Linked DNA regions of Homo sapiens. The protein of the gene in region 1 interacts with the protein of each later gene in a pairwise test. Each region holds a gene or a part of one and is shown on either strand. Other genes may lie near its edges.

Region 1 (7,081 bases):
GCTTCCCTCTGCAGCTGGTCTTCCACTTGCCAATTGTCTCTGTCCTCTTTGTCCTCTGCCCTGCTCTGGCTGAGCCCAGGGCTCTTATGGACCCAGAGGGAAGGAAGTGCATACTAATTGGTTCATGGGCAGGCCCGGAAAACGCACCACAAGTCCCCACTTTGGTCCCCGGGACTGGCAGCCCGGCCCCAGCCTTCATGCCCTCCCTGGCCTGAAGGTGGGGCCTTACCGGGGACCTACCCCCTTCTTCCCAGGAATCTATCTGCCTCCTGCTGCCATACATGGCGCCTGGGCTCGGCCCCAACTTTGCTCCAAGATCGGAGCAGGCACCAACAATAGGAGTAAGCCAGGCAGTGAGAGCAGGCACTTCTGAGCCTGCAAGGGCCCGGCAGAGGGGCCTTTCTGGGCCCCCAAGAGTGCAGGGATGCCTGAGGCTGTGGTTTGGGCAGCTGCAGTTGTGGGCCTGCCTGCTCCGTGGAGCGGGAAGCCCGGGTCTGCAGCCATAGTTTGGGTGGGGCGAACCCCAGGGCTGCAGCCCCAGGCAGCCCCACGCAGATCCTCCTCCCGAGGCCCGGGAACCTGACATCTTCAGTGGGGTGGGTGTGATGGCTGTGCCACTGGCTGGGTCCTCACCGCTGGTGCCACTCTCACTACCCACCCCAGGCCCCCGAAGCACAGCCCCAGCTCTGCATCGGGGCCCCTCTCCACCCAACCATGCTGCTCTCCTGCCATGCTGAGGGCAGTGGGCTATGGTGTGGGGAGTGGGGTCTGTTCGCCTCCTCCCTGTTCCCTCCCTGCAGCGGCAGGTATCACGTGATGGCAGCAGCTGCACCAGTTGGCCTGCTGCTGGCATCACCGCACTGGGCCAGCTGTGGCCAGACTGAGGTCAGGAGTTCCTTCAAAGCATCAGCCACAAAAGCTGCCTCCTAAAGGGGGTGTTTAATGGAAAAGCCAGCCCCGCCCAGTGGTAGGAGTGGCCAAGACACGGCAGCGGCCTACCCCTGCCTGCCCGTCTTGAGGCCGAGCCCAGTGCCAGCACGCTCAGTGCCCTGCCGGCTCCTTGGACCTGTCTGTGTTCCTCTGTCCTGCTGTGCAGTTTCCGCCGATGGCCGTCCCCACCCTGCCCTCCTTCCCTCCTGCCTTCATCCTTCCAGTTGCAGGGCTGGGGTTGCCTCGTGTGTCTGGGGGCGCCCAGCACGCTTCCTTCTCCTCTTGCACCGGCCCAGGGCCTGAGAAGCACATGGTGGGTTGTCTTGGCCTAGAGGTCACGGCTCAGTGCCCAGGTCCTGCCACAGGTTGGGTGCCCTGGCACTCATGGCGGCCCCGAGCTACACGAGCTGGTCTCCCCCACCTTTTGCTCGTAAAGAAACTGAGGCTTGGGGTGGCCTGGCTGTGAGCCTGCAGTCTGACCACTGAGGCCAGGCCTGGAGGCCTCCATGGCTGACAAAGGGGTTCTCTGGGGTTGTCCTGGGCAGAGGCGAGCCTCCGCCCTATCTGATCTTTCCTGACCTCCTGCCAGCGGTCTGTCGAGGTAGCAGTGAGCCGTGAATAATTCCTGAGCTGAGCGGTGTGCGGACGTCACGCGGCCAGCATTCTCTCTGTATGGGGGTGGGGCAGGGAGGAACCCTGGACTCGGGTGGCAGCACTGGCCGCCTTGCCAGACTTGGGCCCCTTTGTGGGAAATGGTGTCCATTTTTTAGCAGTTGCGCAGGACCGCCCAGCGTCCTCTTCCCGGGAGCTGGCCCTGTGGCCCCGGCCCTTGCTTGAGAGCTGTGGAGTCTGGAGGGCTGGGGAAAGGCAGGGCCAAGCCCAGGAGGCAGGGCCTGTGGGGTGGGCAGCTCTGGCTGGAGTGTTCCGGGGGAGGGTGGGGAAGGAGGATAGGGTCAGGTCTGTGTGGAGCTGGGGTCACCCTAAGGAGTAGGGGGGCCGCCGAGGCTCCGGGTCCAGCGCCCCCATGCCCGGAGCCCTAATTGATTTTATCTCAGCCACAAAACTCAGTCCCTGTGATCTAAAAAGAGCAGGTTGTTGCAGGTTTGCGGTGGTGGACTTTGGGAAAATCTCTTGAGACCACTAGGTCTTAGCACCCAAATGGCAGAATTTGTCCATGGATGAAAATAGGGTCCTAGCGTGGCCCCGTGCTTTGTGGTGGAGACACCTTCGGCCTCCCCATATCTGCGAGCCTGGCATTCCCGTGGCCAGCGCCTGCCCATGGCCCCACAGGAGCCACCATCTGGTGAGGGGGCTGCTCCTGCTCCGAATGGGGTGTGGGGTTGCTTCTCCAGCGCTTGGCCCTGGGCCTCGCCGGGGAGGCTGCCGGTGTTTCTGAACGGAGGCCTCAGCTCCCCGGCCTCCAGGGCACCCGCAGGCACCAGCCCCTGTGGGAGTGGCTCGCAGGTGGGAGCAGGACCCTTGCAGGCATGTGGGGGGAGGCAGGAGCTGCCCCAGCAGAGCCACACGGAAGGTCTGAGTCTGTGTAGAAGACAGGCTGTGCCAGCTTCGCAGTCCCCCCATCAGATGTGTAGCCGACAAGACAGAAACTGCCTCTTCCGTCTCCCCCATGGGGGCTGCCTGGGGCGTCTGAGCCCCCGTCCTGTGTTCACGGCCGGGCCACTGGGGCTCTTGTGCTTTGTGGAAGGGGCTGCAAGGTGTGATGTGTGGGGCACCCCGGGCCTCAGAGGGCATCTGCCCACATTGAAGTGGCCGTGGTAGCAGCAGGGGCAGTGCCTCTCAGGGGTCCCTCCACCCAGGTGCGTGAGGACACCTTCCGAGGGGTCTGTTTTGTAAACATCTCGGCCTCCGTGAGCGCTGAGCCGGGGCGAGGGCTCTGTGAGGTGAGTGATGATCTTGGGGAAAGCCCCGGATGCTGTTGAGTGCCGGTCACTGTGGCCTCCCTCGCTGCTGGCTCCCGGCCTGTTGGGCAGCCGCCCCTGCTGAAAGGTGCCCTCTCCACCCCTGGCAGGAAGCCCCTGTCACCCTGACCCCCGGTTCCTGCATGTAGGCTGCGGAGGACCCGGGCACGAGGAGCGCAGGCCCAGGCTGGTGGCCATCAGAGGTGTCCTTCTGAGGCTGAGCCCTAGGCCCCTGCCCTGCCCGCGAGGGCATCTCTGGGTGAGGTTTTCGTGTGTGTTTTCCTAGAGGTCTTGCAGTTGTGAGGACAGAGGTCCAGGGCACAGTGGGCTCACCTTGGAGTACGCAGAGCCAGGCTGCCTCCGTACGGAGAGACTTAAACTCACTTAGACCTGGGGTGGTGGCTGGTCAGGGTTAGGCTGTAGGCGGCAGGACGTGGCCACACCGTCAGGGGTTTCCTGAGATGCCGCAGGCTCAGGTGTGCTGGGGAGAGGCCTGGGTAACCTGGTGCCTCTGAAGCCTCCTGAGGTGGCCGGGCCTTGGTGGACCTGCAGGAACCTTCGGCTTCTCACGGAGGACTCACCGTGCTCTGCTCTCTTTAGGATGAAACAGGCGCCTATTTAATCGACAGAGACCCCACCTACTTTGGGCCTGTGCTGAACTACCTGAGACACGGCAAGCTGGTGATTAACAAAGACCTCGCGGAGGAAGGTAAGCCGAGTTTTGGGCACAGGTGCCTTAGCTTTGGGGGCAAGGGCCCGACAAAGGTGCCAAGGGCTCCACTTAAGACACAGATGCCTGCAGCCTGGGGCCCCAGGGAGGAGCAGGCCCTGTACTCTGAAGCTGGGGCCGACGTTCTGGTGCTGAGGCCACGGGCAGCGGCGCAGCTGCCGGACAGGGAGGCCTGGGGACCCTGTGGGTGTGGGGTCCTCCCTGGCTGCAGCTCCTTGGAGGGCTCCCTCTGTCCAGGCTCCGGCTGGCGACACAAGGGGTGTGAGGGGTTCCTCCCTGCTGTGACTGAGGTGGTCTGAGCGGGTGTGTGAGGCACATGCCCGGTGATGCCCACGGCGTGCTTCAGGGCCTGGTTCCCTGGCCTGCTCTCCCTCAAGGACAGCCCAAGGGTGGTGAATGTCTCTGTGCCATCACCTGGACTGTGCCTGCTGCTGCCAGCTGCCGTGTTCCATTCTGAGTGATCGTGGTGCAGGGACGGCGCCCACACGCGTTGGGCCCAGGCTGGCCTGCCTGTGTGCTGCGGTGCTGGCTTGGCTCAGAACAGCTCGAGGCCTCGCCGTGAAGGCTGAGGGTTTCTGGGCACCTGCGTGCGGGCGTGGCCCTGCTCCCCCGGGTCCGTGTCTGCGCATCGGTCTGCACTGGGCAGCGTCTGACTCCGTTTCTGTTCTGGGCCTCTGGGCCTCGGCATCTGCCTGCCTCCTCCGAGTTCACGCGGGGCGTGGAGTGACGGGGGCTGTGGCCCAGCCCTGCCCCTGCTCTGAGGCTGTGAGCCATGATCCCCACTCCTGTCTCTTTGGCAGGGAATGTCTTTCACATGTACTCTCTCTGGTCGCTTGGGCAGCCGCTTGTGTTGTCGTGGAGCCGCTCGAGTCGAGGCTTCGCTTTATCTCATTCTGCCCCTAGTGGGATTGGCTCAGAAACGGGCGCTAGACACAGACCAAGGCCCTGCCGCCCAGGCTCACCGGTCTGCCTCTATCCCGCCCCGATGCAGCCACTCACGCCCTGGGTGCTAGAGAAGGGGGCTGTGCGGGACCCATGCGGGGCCGGGAAGCCTGTGTCTCTGAGGCCCTCGTCTCCTTGTCTCTATCCTGCGTGGCCCTGTCCCATGTAGGTGGCTGGGTGTTGTCCTGAGCTGCCATGTGCCATATGTGGGTTCCTCTGGGGTCCTGGAGGAATGAAGACCACCCATGAGGAAGCCCTGAGGCAGGACCTGTGGAATCTGCTCTTAAGGCTCTTAAGGGAGGTTTGCAGTCCCTAAGTGCGGCACATTACGGATGGCAGTCTTTGGGAAGAGCTGGAAGTGACCCTCTCAGCCAGCCACAGTCTTCCCTTTGAATGGGGTCAACTGAGGTGCCAGGTGACTGAGACATATGCACAAGGCCGCAGGCCTGAGCCCCACACAGCACCCCACCCAGTGGCGTGGCCATGAGCAGGTTCCCAGCAGGAAGCGTCGGCCTCCAGGCTTGGAGGGAAAATGCCAGATCCAACCCCCAGCATACCATGGCCTCGGCGTAGACATACGCTGAGCTGCATGTAAGCAGCGGCTCCATACCTGGCGGGTCACTGGAGGTCACTCAAGGTTACCTGGGGTGACCTGAGCTGGAGGTGTTCAGTCCACACATCGGCCCTCTCACCACGGCCCCTCCGCCCATTATCCCAGGAGCCCTGCTGGGCTGACACGTCTGCAGGAAGCCTGTTAGGTCGGGGCCTGAGCAGCTCCCGCTGGGCCGAGCCATGGGCCCTCATTGCAGGGGCAGGGGCAAGGGCAGGGGTGGGTGTAAAGCGTGGATTCTTTGGTTTAGTTTGGTCTGGTAAAGACAATTTATTTTTCCTTATTCCAGGAGTGTTGGAGGAAGCAGAATTTTACAATATCACCTCATTAATAAAACTTGTAAAGGACAAAATTAGAGAACGAGACAGCAAAACATCGCAGGTGAGACAAATGACTGAGGCTGGAAGCTTGTATGGCTGGTGTGAAGGAAGGGCTCCCCTTTACTCCCCCGACCGGCTGCCTCCCAAATAAGTCCTGCGGTCTGGGGCTCTCCTACCCTGAGACCCTTGTCCTCTGTCACTGCCCCAGTGCCTGCCAGCTCCGTCTACCCGGCTCTCCCCAGGGTCCCTTGAAGGATCCATTCATCCTGCCCGGCCCAGACTCTGGGAGCCCCCAAAGGATGGCTCTGAGGAAGTTGGGCACGGGAGACGTGTGTAGGGAAGGAGGGCCCCATGAGGGCCGGTCGGGGAGACCCTGAGGTGGATGGCATCTGGTAGGGAGCAGAGGGTGCCAAGGGCCTGCAGCCAGCATGGCTGGAGGGAGACAGCAGATGGGTCGTGTGGGTCTGCGCAGGCGCCAGAAGGACCTTGGTTTTATTGGGAAGAGGGGCGGCTCGCCACAGACACACCTCTCACAGCTGGCACGGCCCTTCTGCAGCCAGGGGAGCCCAGGTTGTTGGTGGGCTCTGCCCAGTACCTCCTGTGGAGGGGCCACTGCTGGGCCTTGGGCATCAGTCCCGTCCCTGAGAGCTGAGCCCGCCCCCCCCACCCAAGCTCAGCTCCCTTGAGAAGGCACCAGGAGTGGGGTGTGTGCCGCACTGTGGCCGCGGCTGCCATCAGAAGTCTCGGTCCACGTAGAGCCCTGGGCCCTGTGCAGACGCTCCTAGCCTGGCCGCTCAGGGCCGCTGGCCACCTAGCGACTTGCCCAGTTCCCCCTCCTGCTGGAGCTCCCTTGGTGCCACTGAGGGATCTGGAGGGGCTCCTTGTCTGTGGGGCAGGAGCTGCGTCCCGCGCCCCGGGTCACCTTGTCCAGTCTGCTTTTTTCCCTGTTGTGTGACCGGGCTGTGTGGGCACTCCCTGCCTCAGTCTACCTACCTGTATGACGCAGGTGGGCAGGAAATGGTGCAGGTGGGAGAGTCTGCGGTCCAGCCTTGCTGTGACACAGTAGCATCTCACTGTCTTGCAGAATAAAGCAACTCGGGCATGTGACCTCGAGGCCACTGTGTGCCTTTGTCACTCAGGCATCCCTGGCATGAGTCACCACCTTAAGGTCAGGGACCCAGGACCTCTGAACCCCTTCTCACTGCTGCGTTTCCGTCCAGCCCCGTCTGCAGCCTGAGTCCTCCGTAGTGACTGTCCAGGATGTGGGGCCACCCCGCCCACTGGGGAGCAGCTCCATGCAGGCGGGCGGCCCTGGTGGCTCACCATCACTCCCAGGACCACAGCTGCCTGGAGGGGCACAGCAAGCGTGCCAGGCAGGTGGGGGATTAGGAGGTGGATGGAGTTTTAGGAAGCAGCTCAGCCTTCGGGAGGCCCAAGTCCAGGCTGCCGCGCAAGTTCAAGAGCCTTTTTCTGGTAGCTGGGAGCGAGCTTCGTCTGGCACTGGCTCTCAGGGCCCTGCTTGCCAGAGCCTTTCCCGACCGATGAATTCAGGGCTGCACGGTTGCTGCGTGCGGAGCAGACGTGGACGCTCTCGTGTCGTCATGTCGAGCCACAGGTGCTCTTGGGATTT
Region 2 (7,985 bases), on another chromosome or scaffold:
AATTAGTCATTTCTATAATTCCTTTGAGTATATCCATTTTCATGTCTATTCTCCTGAGGGAAAAAAAAAAAAAGACCTTACCGATAGCATATGCTTCTCTGCTCCCAACAAACTCTCCTTTTGAGTTTTACTCTATCACTTCAGAACTTCAATTCTATGCCACAGCAGTTCCTGAACTTCAGTGGCAATCATATCAGGATTTTTCTCTTACAGTGGCTTAAGTGACTATGTTACACTGTGTTTTGTACAAGATACAGGTGACTTCTAGATCTCATCTAGCTCTAAAATGCTGCACGAGTGTAGGATTCAAAGCAAATCTAGAAAATATTCTTAGAATATGGAGTCGGATGTTGTTTTCTACGGGCCATACCATTACTACTTATTTTATAAGCCATTTTATCTTAACAATTTTCTGAAGTTTTTTAATGTTTCCATTCCCACTAACAATTTCATGTCTTGTAAACTGTTCAAACCAGTAATATATGTACTATTTTGTATCTTTGCTAATATCACTTAGAAAAAATTAGAACCTGATAAGCTCAAGTTTCATAAATAATGTAAACACAAGATAAAATGTCACAGTGCCAGGCTGAGACAGGAGAATGGCGCGAACCTGGGAGGCGGAGCTTGCAGTGAGCCGAGATCGCACCACTGCACTCCAGCCTGGATGACAGAGCGAGACTCTGTCTCAAAAAAAAAAAAAAAAAAAAGTTACAGTGCCAAGATAACTGCCTTATGAGTTAAAACTTTTAAATGAATTCTGCAGTCTCTAATAAGAGTTCACTCAGTATTAAGCCATCCACATAGTAAATAACAATACTGCTTAATTTTTACAATAATACTGTATGTCCTTGTGAATGTCTGAATAGAAATATATTAACTATCGGCCAGGCGCGGTGGCTCACGCCTGTAATTCCAGCACTTTGGGAAGCCGAGGCGGGAGCATCACGAGGTCAGGAGATCAAGACCATCCTGGTCAACGTAGTTAAACCTCGTCTCTACTAAAAATGCAAAAATTACCCGGGCGTGGTGGCGCGCGCCTGTGACCCAGCTACTCGGGATGCTGAGGCAGGAGAATCGCTTGAAACTGGGAGGCAGAGGCTGCAGTGAGCCGAGATCGCGCCACTGCACTCCAGCCAGGCGACAGAGCAAGACTCCGTCTCAAAAAAAAAAAAAAAGAAAATTAAAGAAAAGAAATACATTAACTATCAATAGCAAGTAGAAACCAGTGTAGGGATTGTAAATGATTATACTGCTACTCTTCAGTATAATCAACACACATTGCAGGCCTCCTCTTTAGGGGTATTCCACAAGTTACCAAACTTCCAATATTTTAACGTGATTTTAGGAAAAACTCCATTTCTTACATTAGGAGACATAAATCTCCATAAGACTGGTTTCTATACAACTGCAATAACGTTGTAAATTATCTAAGTTTTGATTTGGGGGAAGAGGAAAAACCCTAAGAACGAAGTACCATGGTTTTCTGTGTTAAATTCTAGAAAGCTATCAAATGTTTAGGATTAAAGCACTACAGTAGACATTTTTTATCACTATGGTTCTAAGACATTAAAATACTTTTAAAATGCTGGTTGAAAATCATATTCTCAAGCACAGAAAAATTAACTGTATTCCAGAGCATTTCCTTGTTTATCTCCTTACCAAGCCTAAAACTCAACTAATCCTTCTTTCAAACAGCTGGCAAACTCCCTTTTCTGAGAGGAGTGACTCATAAGTTATAGGAAATCCACAAAAACTACGATTTTTTCCCCCAACAAACTTAATAACAGGCACAGAAGGGGCGGGGGGGGGGGGGGGCGGAAGGCCAGAAAGAGAACAGACAGAGAAGAGCATTCAGTCTGTTTACTCCAAGGGCGTCACACCGTGCCAATATCCAGAGCTTCCTAAAAGCAAATGTTCAAACTGCAGTTTCTGGACACACTGTCCTAGAAGTTGAACAGATCCTTCAAGCCCATGCACCAAGAAATTCTGAAAATAAATAACTAGGTACTGCAAACCTACTGCACTCCCATCACAGAAATCTTTCAAATTACAAATCCCCTAATTAGGCGCGGAAAAGAACACCGCACTCTTCCCTAAGAAAACCGACACCTCGTTGACCAAAGAGAAAGGAAAGCAAGTTCATCTCCAACATCCAAACCACAAAGCCAGGTTTCTACTAAATAAAGTCCTCAAATACACTCTAATCTGAGATGAGGTAAGGAAGGCTGTGTAATGGTTCTCCTTGCCTGTTGGGAGGGGCAAAGGTTGGCATTCTAGGACAGCAGCTACTCTGCCACATGGGCCTGGTCCTCGGTAATTCCAAGCGTCCCTTCTGCCTCTCCCTTCCCAGAGCAGATGCTTCACCAGCTCCAAAATCCGCCCGACGTTCTTGCCGCCTGGAGGCCCCCACGTTCCCCTCCAGGCTTGGCCTCCCACGCTCGCCCTCGTTCCTGCGACTCTCGGTCCCCGTCGACACCAAAGGAGGAGGCCGCCAAGGCATCCCCGCTGCAAGCCCGCTACCCGCCGACTCACCTGGTCCCCCCTACGTTCAGTTGGACGATCTCGCCGCTGCCGGCCGCCGCCGCGGGGAAGCTGCCGCAGTGCCCTCCCGCCATCTCCGGCGGCTCCGGACGCGCTCGCCGCCCTCCTTCCCCAGCCGGGACCGCCGAGCCCGGGGCTGTAGCCCGAGGCAGCGGCGACGGCTGCAGGGCCAGCGGGGCGGCGGCGGCCGGAGGGCGGGGGGTGCACGGGGCTTCCCCCACCTTCCCGGCGGCCGGGCGGGGCTCGCTAGCTTCTGCCCCTTCCCGGGTCAATCCTGCGGTGCACAAGGGCGGCCCGGCCTCCACCTTTCGCGGCCTCCAGGCCGCCGGGCCGCCCGGGCCTCTTCTCCGTGCTCCGCTGCCACCGACGCCGCCGCAGCCTGCCTGGGAGGAGGGGTCACCGTTCGGGACAAAATACCGCAGCGCTCACGCTTCGCCCGCCACTGCCGCCTAGAATGAGGAGGAGGAGGAGGAAGGAAAGGTCAGGGAGGAGCTTCCCAACGCCGCGGGGCTGGCGCGTAGGGAGGCTAGGGGAATGTGCTCCTGGCCAGCCGCCTGCCCACGCGGGATTCCATTTCGTTCCTCCTCCCCACGCGATCCCAGCCCCTTTCCCTTTTACATTTCAGATTTTCTAAAACGAGGAAGCTGATTCGCAGATTGAGGGCAGATCTGGGCAAACGATCTACGGATCTTTATGACCCACTTTGTCAACATGGATTGGGAAAGGAAAAACTAATCCTAGAGGTAGTAAAAGTTGATGCCTAAATGTAGACAGTGCAAATGCAGGGAACATTTGGAGATTTTAAAACCTTACAGCGTTTACCCCAGAAAACTGCTTACTTTACCCTCTTCAATTTAATCCCCAATCTCCCAAGCAGTTTTTTTGTTTTGTTTTTTGCTTTTGTTTGTTAAGCAGGAAGGAAACCAAAGGACAAAAACCCCTAGACTGTGTAATGCCCAGCAACCTATTTCTGGAATATAGTAAGCACTCAACTAATGTTAGACACACGCAGAAAACACACAATTTTATGCGCTTGTTTATTTATTTGTTTTTGCTTTAAACGGTATCTATTCAAACCCAAAACCTTAGTGGCTATTAAAATATTTTTTAAATCGGAATACTATAATACTTGATGCCCTGCTAACAAAGACTAACAAAGATAGTGCGTTATGTTTCAGAGGTCATTAGTTTGTGGTACTAAATTCTTAACATGAATTGTTTTGTCATAGTTGTATCATAATAATTCAAACTGATAATGTATCTGATGTTAAGTTTTTATTGTCATTGTCATAATTTTTACCAAAAAAATAAAAAATAGCCTCTGGCAAGCATACTAATGTTGTGATATGCTCTATCTAGATTCGACTTGAAAGATGTTAATAGTACATATGGATGTAAGATAAGTATTATTTCTCCCAGTTGATGATAAGCTTAATAATAGCTAATTTGTGTTTATCATATACCCGGTGGTTTAGATATTTTGTCATCTTTCTTCGTCACAACTAATGTTATAATTATTTTTAAAAAAGGAAATTTGGGAATGAAAATGATCAAAAAAACTTGCTCAAAATTACATAGGTAGCAAGTGGGATGGCAGGAATTTCAAGGCAAGCAGCTTGAATTCAAGGCCACTGTTCACCATCCTTACCACTGCATTGTACCTCATTATCTTCACTTTAGACAGGGAAGATGAGTAACAGTTCAGATTAAAGCAGCAGCAACTAGGAATCTAAACCAGGGTGTCCAATCTTTTGGCTTTCCTGGGCCACATTGGAAGATGAATTGTCTTTGGCCACACATAAAATACACTAACACTAACGATAACTGATGAGCTGAAAAAAAGAAAGAAAGAAAGAAAGAAAGTTTATGAATTTGTGTTGGGCCACATTCAAAGCTTTCCTGGGCTGCATGCGACCCATGGGGCTGCAGGTTGGACAAGCTTGCTTTAAACAATGTTAACTGCCTTTGCCCTAACACATAATATCTGGTTCTATCAGGATCTGAAACTTTGCTTTAAAATTTGCAGCGAAGATTTAAGTGGTAAAAGGGCCATTTAATTTTCCTTAGGTCCAAACCTTGGAAGAATATGAAAGAATAGTTGCTAACAGCCTTTGAATCCAAGAGGCAAGTTGGAGTTAGAATAAGGCCTTATAAATTTAAAAATATATATATTTGTGAAAGGCTTCTTATTTTTCCTGAAATAAATGAAACCGTGTTCATTTTATTATACTGTACTTAAAAATTAGGAGAACATCTCTTCAAGAGAAGGAAAAGTTCTCAGTATTTTATAAGACAAATGGTCATGACTTCTTGATATGTCCAGAACAATATAGAGATATCTGAGGCATTTCTTGCTCATAAAACTTAAAGTTAGGGTGTGACTTAATTTTTAAGAATAAATTGGAACACCATTAACAAAAACAAATAGCAGAATGAGAAAAGATATTTGCAACATATATCAAATGATTGAAAATATATAATATCTGATCATATATGTATATATTATTCTACAAATAAATTGAGAAAACAAGTAATGAAAAATATGGAAAGAATATCAACAGCCAATTGATAAAAACACTAAAATGCTTATTAAAACAACAGAAAGCTGGGTGTAGTGGCTCACACCTGTAATCTCAGCACTTCGGGAGGCCGAAGTGGGTGGATCACGAGGTCAGGGGTTCGCGACCAGCCTGGCCAATATGGTGAAACCCCGTCTCTGCTAAAAATACAAAAATTAGCCAGGCGTGGTGGTGCGCGCCTGTAGTCCCAGCTACTGGGGAGGCTGAGGCAGGAGAATCGCTTGAATCTGGGAGGCAGAGGTTGCAGTGAGCTGAGATCGCACCACTGCACTCCAGCTGGGACGACAGAACGAGACTCCATCTCAAAATAAATACATAAATACATAAATAAATGAATAAAACAAAAAATGTATTTTTACTCATGAGATTAGCAAAAATTAAGAGAGGTTTGATAAAATTCAAGGACAGTGAGAGTGTGAAATGATCATACTCATGCATTGCTGATTAAATTATGAATGGGTACAGAGTTTCTGGAGGGCACCTCAAGAATATCAGCATTTTAAATGTAAATACCCTAGACCCAGCACTTTTCTTCTAAAAATATATCCTATACACATTTTGCTCAATTGGCAAAGGTACATGCAAAGAAGTAAGTGCATATTCATGGTAGTAGTGTTATAATAGCAAAAACATGGAATATTCAACAACAAGGGAATAATTTTTAAAATTATGTTGGAAGCTATTACTATTTTGGGGGCAAATTCATGTGAACTGACCAGAAATGATCTCCAAGTATATGATTTAGTGGGGAAAATAATCAGATTACAGAATAATACATTATGAGTACAATCTCATTCATTTAAATAATGGAAAAACTAAAATCATGTGTATATCCACTTATATTTCTATATAAAAATACATATTAAACTACGAAGAAACATAACCTCTAGACAGATCATTAGAATCAGTGAGGAGAAGGTAGCAGTGGTGAATGGACAAAACCTTTTACCCCTATGGTCTTTCATATTGTTTAACTGTTTACAGTGAGTTTTCTTTCATGTACTACCTGTATGTATGTATGAATGTGTAAATAAATAGAGTAGATACATTCAAGGTTGTCCCCATGACAGCTTTTTAAAGTTTATGTTATTTTAATATTTAGGCAATACAAAGTAAATAAAACATTATTTAAATAATATTACCTTCTTTAGTGACTATATTGAATTTGTGATGTCTACTCGACCAGTCCTTGTCAAACTATCTCAGGTAAGAACTAGTTCAATTTCCAATTTATGGGGTGATTTAGTCAGGACTCTCTAGAGGGACAGAACTAATGGAATATATATATGTTTTATAATATATGTATTTATAAATATATATTATATATATGGAATATATATATGTATATTCCATTAGTTCTGTGATGGGTAAACTCCCCTTTATATATATATAGCTCGGGCGGGCACTGTGGCTCACACCTATAATCCCAGCACTTGGGATGCCAAAGTGTGCGGATCACCTGAGGTCAGGAGTTCGAGACCAGCCTAGCCACATGGTGAAACCTTGTCTCTACTAAAAACACAAAAATTAGCCAGGCGTGATGGCACGCTCCTGTAATCCCAAGTACTCGGGAGGCTGAGGCAGGAGAATCACTTGAGCCTGGGAGATGGAGGTTGCAGTGAGCTGGGATTGCAGCACTGCACTCCAGCCTGGGTGACAAGGCAAGAGTCCATCTCAGAAAAAAAAAAAAAAGTTTCCAACCTCTTAGTCTCATTTTTGTGCTTATTTAATTGCAGACTATTCACAGTTTGTGGATGGGCATCAATTCATGAACCACACTTAAGTGGCCACACTTAAAGTAGTGTTTATTATCACTTAAGTAGCACACTTAAAGTAGCATTTACTTGAAGTGTGGTTATACTAAAAGTAGTACACTAAAAGTAGTAACCACACTTAAAGTAGCGTTGTATTAGATATCCAAGTAAGATGTTGAGTAAGCTGTTGTATAAAGGACCTAGAAGTTTCAGAAAGAGAACTAAGCTAAAAATTCTCTTATTTTTACTGAAATAAAACTTTGGGAATGAGTAGTATATAGATGGCTGTTAGAGCCATGAGACTGCCTAAAATCATAAGGAGGTGAGTGTAGAATGAGACAAAAATAGAAATCAGAATGGAGCCCTTGACTATCCAATATTAAGAGACTGGGGAGGAGTTCCAGTGAAGGAAACTAGAAAGGAGTTTCAGCCAGATGGGAGGAAAACCAAGGGAGCATGGGGTCCTATGAGATCACAGGACAAGTAAGATAAGAACTAAGAATTGACTTTGGATTTAGTGACATGAAGAAAAATAGTGTGGTGGAAGTAAGGGCAGTTCTAGTGCAGAAGTGGGAGAAAAAGCATAATTGGTGGGGTTTTGCTATAAAGAAGAGCTAAGAAACAGACAGTAGCAAGCTAGGGAAGTAAGGCCAAGAGAATGTTTTGTAAAGATGTTTTAAAAAAAAATAACCACGTTGATGAAAAGCAATCAGTAGGTAGCAAAAATCTGACCATTCAAGAGAGGCAGAAGATAATTATTAGAGTAACGTCTTTGAGTAAATGAGGAAGATATCTAGGCATCAAGTAAAGATAAAGAAACTGAGCCACAAGGAGGATCAGTAATTTGCCCAGTGTTCGTTGTTGCTGCTATTATTGTTATCTTCTAACCCACTCTATATTTAGATATTATTATTATTATTATTATTATTTTGAGACAGCGTCTCACTCTGTTGCCCAGGCTGGAGTGCAGTGGTATGATCTCGGCTCACTACAACCTCTGTCCCCTGGGTTCAAGAAATTCTCCTGCCTCAGCCTCCCGAGTAGCTGGGATTACAGGTGCCTGCCACCATGCCTGGCTAACTTTTGTATTTTTAGTAGAGATGGGATT
Region 3 (7,086 bases), on another chromosome or scaffold:
AGTGGACCCAGCATCACCATATCTTTAGTTTAAAAAAGAGCCCCAAATCCAAATGTGTGGGAAACCTTTTGATCTTTAAAATATTGGCTCAAATGAAAATAAAAACAGAAACAAAACAATATGTGAGCTGGGGCATTACAACAAGCCTGTGGACTGGAAGTGGTCTTATTTGCCACCTTTGGATTCAGTTTGGTATATGACACTGAGTTTCATCTTCCTTATCCACTCTGTAGATGTAAGACAGGGTTATGAGTGGCAATGGGAGCCAGAGTTCCTCACCAAAAACACGCTTGTAGGCAGAGCAATGACTGAACCCTACCCTTACACTAGGTGCTTTGCACCAGGGCACAAAAGCCTGCTTCCAGACCCCACCCCCGGTCAAAGTGGGGCATAACTAGAACCGAATTTACCAGTTTGTTTCCCTTCTTTGGGGCTATAGTTTAAAAAAAAATGCCTTGTTGAAAATCCCCCAAAGTACCTAAAAGTCCTTTTCTTTTCTTTTGTCTGACACCTACAGTTGGAGTCATTTGGGCAAATGTTTAGTTGCTCTGAGTTTCTGTTTCTTCATCTGAAAAATGGAGTAATGATAATTATATCCTCCAGTTTGTTGATCAATATTTGTTAACCACCAGGCACAGGGGTACAATGGTGACTGACATGGCTCCTGAACTCGCAGAGTTCACAAATAAAAACAAATAATCACATCAATGGTCAATTCATCATATTTGTGCTAAACGCTGCGGAGAAATACAGGTGAGGTGGGAAGATTAGAAGTAAGGTATGTAAAGTGCCTGGCACAAATAAATGAATCAGCAGGTCAAGTAGTGGAGTAGGTAAGAACATGGTAGGAACCTAGATGTCAAAGAAATTGATGAAGCTTAGAGCTCTTGGCAAAGTTGTGTCCTTAATAAAAACTGAATGGTTGAGCCATCATCCAAGCTTTTTGGCATCTCTATGTGGCAGAGACCCTGAAGTATTCTATGGTCTGCTGAATGGGAAGAAGAGAAGACAACAGCTTTCCAGCTCTCCCTTCTCCCACTCTCCCTTTTTGGATAACAGCACTCCCACGGGGGTCCCAGAGTAGGCTGGTGGGGGAAGCAGCTTTGGGGTTGGAAGCTAGACCCAGTAGGGGTTGGGGGTCCAACCTGGGGAGTCTCCTACGGAAGTGTCAGCCTAGGATAGGAGATGGGGATGCGGATGAAGGTGGAGCTTCTGACACTCAGTAAGTGCTGACATTTTCATTAATTAAAAACCTTATTGTGATCTGAGACACAAAGGAAATCAGCATGAAAACTGGGTTACAATAAGCACGGGTTCTGGACCGATTCATTTTCTCTCTCATTCACCTAGTTATTTTTATTCTGTGTTAGCAAGGCCCTGGGCGAGGCGTGGAAGATCAGAGAAAGATGGCATAGCCTGTGTCCCTGTGGAGTTCACAGTCCAGGGCAGGCAACAGACATATCAACACAATGTTTCATCACAGAAAGGGGAGTGCTACCAGAGGGAGGCACAGAGGGCTGTGGGCACAGAGAGGGCACCTGACGCAACTGGGGAGGTCAGGGGAGGCTTTGTGGGAAGGTACCCCAAACGGCAACCCCACTCACATGCACAATTCCAGAGATTCTACTAGAAGGCTGTCAAGAGCCATGCCTTCTGGCTGCACCAGCCTCCCAGAGTCCCCTGCTGCCCGATGCAGTGTCTGCAGAGCCAAACGCATCTTCCGCCACGCCTCATCCTCATCCGGCGCCGCATCCGACCCTCCAAGACTCCTGCAGGAGCCTGCCTTCCTGGGCAGGCTCAGCCAAAAGACCAACTCAAAACTCTTTTGTCAGAGCAAGCTTAGGGAGAGCCACCCAGCCCCGAGTGCCACAACCCTCCCAGAGCAACCGTGGCCCATGTCACCCCCGCCTCTCAGTGAACTTTGGCAGGGTACCTCCCGTTATCTCCTTTGCTCAAAAGAAAGTGACCTTCTTCCAGGTGGCAAGCTGGAAGCTTTGGGGAATCCTCCTACTGTTCGCTCTCAGCAGGATTCTCCAAACCTGGGATCTCAAGGTCGGGGTGGGCTGCCTTGCGGAGCAGGGGAGGGAAGAAGGGCAGGTTCTGCTGGGTTTCCACCTCAGTGCAGAAACCCCACCAAAAACTCCTCCGGGCAGCCTGGCTGTCTGCTCCAACTGCTCTGCTGGGTATGGCGAGGAGGCGCCAGGAGACACAGCTGCTGAGGGGGCCGCGGCTGCAGGCGCTGCAGGGGACGGAGTGGAGCCGTTCCCGGGGGCAGAGGGAAGAGGCTGCAGTCGTCCAGTCCCAGAGCCCCGAGATGGCCTGTGGCTGAGGGAGCAGGTGGGCCCGGGGGAGGTGGCGGGCCGAGAGCGGAGCTGCGGCCTCGGGATCACAGCCCAGTCCCAGTCCCAGTCCCAGTGTGGGTGTACGGCCGGAACGCCCGGAGGCGGCGGGGAGAGGGGAGCAGCTTCAGCCTAGTCGCAGGAGCGCGGACCGAGCCTCGGCTTTGGGGAGAGGGGTCCAGCCTCCATTCCCGCCCCGGGGGAGAAAGCTTCGGCGCCGGACCCGGGGGAAGGCTGCTACCCCAGCCGCGGCAGGATGGCCCATCCCCAACCCCGCCCCACTCCCGCTCCCGCTCGGGGAAGGTGAAAGCGCCCGAGCCGCCGAAGTCTCCCCGCTCGCTCCTACCTGCGGGCCGGGCACCAGGTTGGGTTCGTCATCCTCCCTGGGGCCGTCGTGGTCGGGCTCCGCCGGCGCCTCCGGAGGGCCTGCACCCGCTCCCGCCTCCAGGCTTGGCGGCGGCGGGGGCTCGGGCGCCTGGGGCTTCTGCGGCCCCGCGGCCCGAGCCCGCTCGCGCCTGCCCGCACCGCCGCTCGGCCTGCTCCGCCTCCGCGTCATGCCGCCGCTCGCGCCGCTCCCTCGCTCCACACGCCGCCGCCGCCGCCGCCGCCGCCGCCGCCGCCGCCGCCGCTACCGCTCCCCTCACAGGACAACAGCCAATATGGCGGCGCCCGGTTCCCCCCCTCCGCCTGCTGCCAACAGGTCAGAGGGCACGCGGAGTCCGCGCCGCCGCACTAGCCCCCGAGGCCGCCTGCGCCATTTTGAATAAGGTCACCACCCGGAGTTCGCTGGGAGAAAAACTTGGTGGGGAGACGCCCTTCCCCCCCTACGCGGGACGGGAAGGATGCAACCTGCTGGAGGAACGCGTGTAATGCGGTGGTAATCGCGCTGCACCACCCTAGCACTTAATAATTGCCTGTTAAATGGATGAGTGAATTAATTTCTATAGTGTTACAATACTTTCACACCCATCGTCTGACTCCTTCCGACAGCACAGCGAGGCAGGTACGGATCATTCCCATTTTGCAGGTGAGAAATATTGAGGCAACATAAAGGCCTGGAAAAGGTTGCTGTACATCATTTTGTTGGAACTCCTGGGCTCGTGGACGGCCTGAGTTGAAAGGGACGAAGGTCTTTATTTGCAACATATGGTCTACTGGGAGTCCAGCGTTCTGTGCTTGGGACAGTGGGACTCAAACCCGACTCCTTGTTCCCGAGTCTGATGGGGAAGGTAGACACGTAGGTACATAGTTACAACCGGTGTGATAACGATGAGACGACTAGGTGTTTCCAAAAAAATAGTATGTGCAGGAGAGGATTTTGGAGTGGTACACAAAGGAGAATTTTTAAAACTTAATAATTATGTATTTAATTGTTAAAAATGGAATTTCCCCCCTCTTTTTGTGAATATACTGTATAATACATGTACATGGCACAGATTAAAAAAAAAAAGTTTTGAGTGAAGTCTGTCTCATGCCTGGGCTATGTACTCTGAAATTGTGGTTATATGCAGAGTTGCTATTGGTATCAACAGGGGCGGAATCCTGACACTGGCTTCCTAACCCATGGGGCAAGGGCTATTTTGAAAGGAAGAGCTACATGGAAGGCCCTGGAGCTCTCCTTAACTACCAAGAAAATAAATCAAAAATAGTACCTTATCTCACCCAGGGATTAATGCCACTATCAAAGATTTGAAAGACGCAGGGTGAGTCCCATCACATCACCATTACCTCTTCAGTTTGCCCAGAACAGAAGAGAGACGGCCTTGAAGAACAACAGAGCATTATGATAAACTTACTTATTCTGGTAAGAACCCCAACTGCAGGCATTCTTCCAGATGCGGTCCTTCTTGGGACAGATCAGCACAGTTGTTGGTCTCTAATAGGCAACAAGAGGTCTGGTCAATGGTTATTCTTCTGTACCAAACACCAGGAATCCCTTGCATTGATCTGGCAGGGGCAGCGGTAAACCCTCACTGTCTTGCTTCAGGGTATGTCACACTCTGGACCCAGCCACTTAGTTTACAGGGATTTTTTTTTTTTTTTTTTTTAATGACAGAGTCTCACTCTATCTCCCAGGCTGGAGTGCAGTGGCGCAATTTCAGCTCACTGCAACCTCCGCCTCCTGGGTTCAAGGGATTCTCGTGCCTCAGCCTCCAGATTAGCTGGGATTAGAGGCACATGCTACCACGCCCCCTAATTTTTTTGTATTTTTAGTAGAGACGGGGTTTCCCCGTATTGCCCAGGCTGGTCTCGAATTCTTGACCTCAGGTGATGCACCTGCCTCGGCCTCCCAAAGTGCTAGGATTACAGGCGGAGCCACTGCACCCTGCCAGTTTACAGGGATTTTTTTTACTAAATCTCCATTCTAATGGATATCAGGCTAATCTGCTGAGGCACTGATGACATCATCTTGATGGACCTTAAGAAAAGGGAATAGCAGATATCCTGGATGATTTGGTAAGGCATGATGTGTGTGCCAGAGGATGGATAATAAATCTCACAAATATATAGGGGCCTCGCAGTAAGCCATCTAGGAGTCTGGGATATGTTGAGATATTTCGTACAAAGTGAAGGGAAAGCTGCTGTAGATCACACTCCCTACTAGGGAAGAGGTGCAATACTTGGGCTGGGGCTTCTTTAGACTTGGTAGGTAACATAGATGTATTTCGATACATTATTATTATTATTATTATTATTATTATTATTATTATTATTATTATTATTTTGAGATGGAATCTCTGCCACCCAGGCTGGAGTGCAGTAGCGGGATCTCTGCTCACTGCAACCTCTGCCTCCCGGGTTTGAGTGATTCTCCTGCTGGCCTCCGGAGTAGCTGGGGTTACAGGCGCGCACCACCATGCTCAGCTAATTTTTGTATTTTTAGTAGAGACAGGGTTTCACCATGTTGGTCAGGCTTGTCTCGAACTCCTGACCTCCTGAACCTCCGGCCTCAGCCTCCCAAAGTGTTGGGATTACAGGCATGAGCCACCGCGCCCGGCCTGTACTTAGGTACGTTATTTTGACCAGTTACTGGGTCACTTGAAAGCTGCCAACTTTAAGGCAGGATCATACAAAAAGAGAAACTTTTCTTAGTGGACCAGGCTGCAGAGTAAATAGTTCTGGCTTTGGTCTTAATACTCAAGCATTGGATTTTGGAGCAAACTTATGCTTTCCTTCAGCAAATAGTTATATTCCATTTTAGAAATAGCTCCTGGCTTGCTTCAGGGGTCTGGTGAAATTGGATGCCTGATCCTGGCCTACTAGGTGACCACGTGACCTGAACTGAGTGTTATCTGATCTACTCAGCCATAAAATCAGGGGTGCTCAGCAACACCCTGTCATCGAGAGGAAGTGACATGTGTGGGTTGGGTCCATGCAAGTCCTAAAGCACAAGTAGGTTGCCAGAGCAAGTTACTTACATTCCTCTGCTGCCACCCTCTTCTCCATTCCATCCTTCAACCTGGATCAGTGGTTTCATGAACGGTTTAATGATGAGTTGACTAAGGAAGAAAAATCCAAAGTCCAGTTTGCAGATGGCTCTGCATGGTGTGCTGGCTCCAGCCAGAAGCAAATTGCTAGAGTGTTCTAGTCTTCCTCAGACAGGGCCCAAGGGCACAGAAAAGGGAAATCCACGCAAAGACCCTGAAATAAAGACACATCAATTCCTGGCCATTGGATCATGATTTACTCTGTTGTTGAGGGACTTGAGGGAAAAAAAGACTGCAGGCTTAGTGACAGGAAGTTCTGAGGATGACAGATGTGGAAAGATTGTCCAGAATGGCTTCAGAACATAAGGCTATTTGTGTCCCAGATGAACGTTCATCAAAAGAACCTCTTAAAAGTCCGATGGGCAGTATGGCCCCTTCTGTGGCTGTCAGACTGTCTCTTCCCAGCTATTTAAGAACTTATTCAATGGCTGCATGAGAAAACTGGCTCAGCAATTTGGACTGTCTCCTCCCTGAGGCTGGCTGACCTATCTACTCTCAGTGCTGAGTCCAATTTGCAGGAACCAGCCAGAGGTCCGTGTGGAACCTTACTCTGAGGGGCACACCTGACTCTCTTCTAGCAGGATGATTACTTTGGACTATGTATTAGGGCTGGTTAGCTGCTGTAACAAACCAACCTCACATAGCAAGAGTTTTAACACCTTAGATCTCGTCTACCTCGTGTCGCAGGCCAATGCCTGTTGAAGGGGACTTTGCAGTCACTCAGGGATCCAGTCTCCTTGGATCTTGTGGCTCTGTCTTCACCTCGGCTCTCAAAGTCCTCTTCATTCATCCAGAGGATGGGAAAGGCAAAAAAGTGAGGGTTGCATGGGACATTTCTATGAGCTGTACCCAGAAATGAATATACATCACTTTTACTCACGCGCCATTGGGGAGAATTCCACTGTATGGTTCCCCCAGAGGATAATCCTTCCCTCCTACTTCTTCCTCTCTCCCCAGGCAGCACTGATCTGCCTTCTGTTTCTACAGAATATTTTGCATTTTCATACAGTATGTATTCTGCTTTGCCAGGCATCTTTCCTGCAGCATAATTATTTTGATTCATCCATATTGTAGCGTGTTTAGATAGCTCATTCCTTTATACTGCAGAGTAGTATTCCATTGTATGGAAGTATCACATTTTGTATCCATTCAGTGCTGATGAGCAGTCATGACAAACATTTCTCATGCATTAAATTAGCTTATTATGCTGCTCTGAGAACTGGAAGAAAATATATTTAAAGCCCAGTACAGGCTGGGCG

What was found. The genes of interacting proteins can lie anywhere in the genome.
Region 2: the proteins of KCTD5 (region 1) and KCTD3 come close enough for resonance energy transfer, tested with the Homo sapiens proteins (one study listed by BioGRID).
Region 3: the proteins of KCTD5 (region 1) and FAM193B interact in a two-hybrid assay, tested with the Homo sapiens proteins (one study listed by BioGRID).

The regions. Positions count from the first base shown.
Region 1 is NC_000016.10:2,692,486-2,699,566, forward strand, and holds part of KCTD5 (BTB/POZ domain-containing protein KCTD5), read left to right. Parts: intron 1-3,449; coding exon 3,450-3,558; intron 3,559-5,420; coding exon 5,421-5,512; intron 5,513-7,081. UniProt on the Homo sapiens protein: Its interaction with CUL3 suggests that it may act as a substrate adapter in some E3 ligase complex. Does not affect the function of Kv channel Kv2.1/KCNB1, Kv1.2/KCNA2, Kv4.2/KCND2 and Kv3.4/KCNC4.
Region 2 is NC_000001.11:215,562,319-215,570,303, reverse strand, and holds the start of KCTD3 (BTB/POZ domain-containing protein KCTD3), read right to left. Parts: upstream 3,001-7,985; 5' UTR 2,619-3,000; coding exon 2,536-2,618; intron 1-2,535. UniProt on the Homo sapiens protein: Accessory subunit of potassium/sodium hyperpolarization-activated cyclic nucleotide-gated channel 3 (HCN3) up-regulating its cell-surface expression and current density without affecting its voltage dependence and kinetics.
Region 3 is NC_000005.10:177,551,564-177,558,649, forward strand, and holds the start of FAM193B (protein FAM193B), read right to left. Parts: upstream 3,001-7,086; 5' UTR 2,896-3,000; coding exon 2,686-2,895; intron 2,533-2,685; exon of another isoform or gene 1,788-2,532; coding exon of another isoform or gene 1,605-1,787; intron 569-1,604; exon of another isoform or gene 479-568; intron 1-478.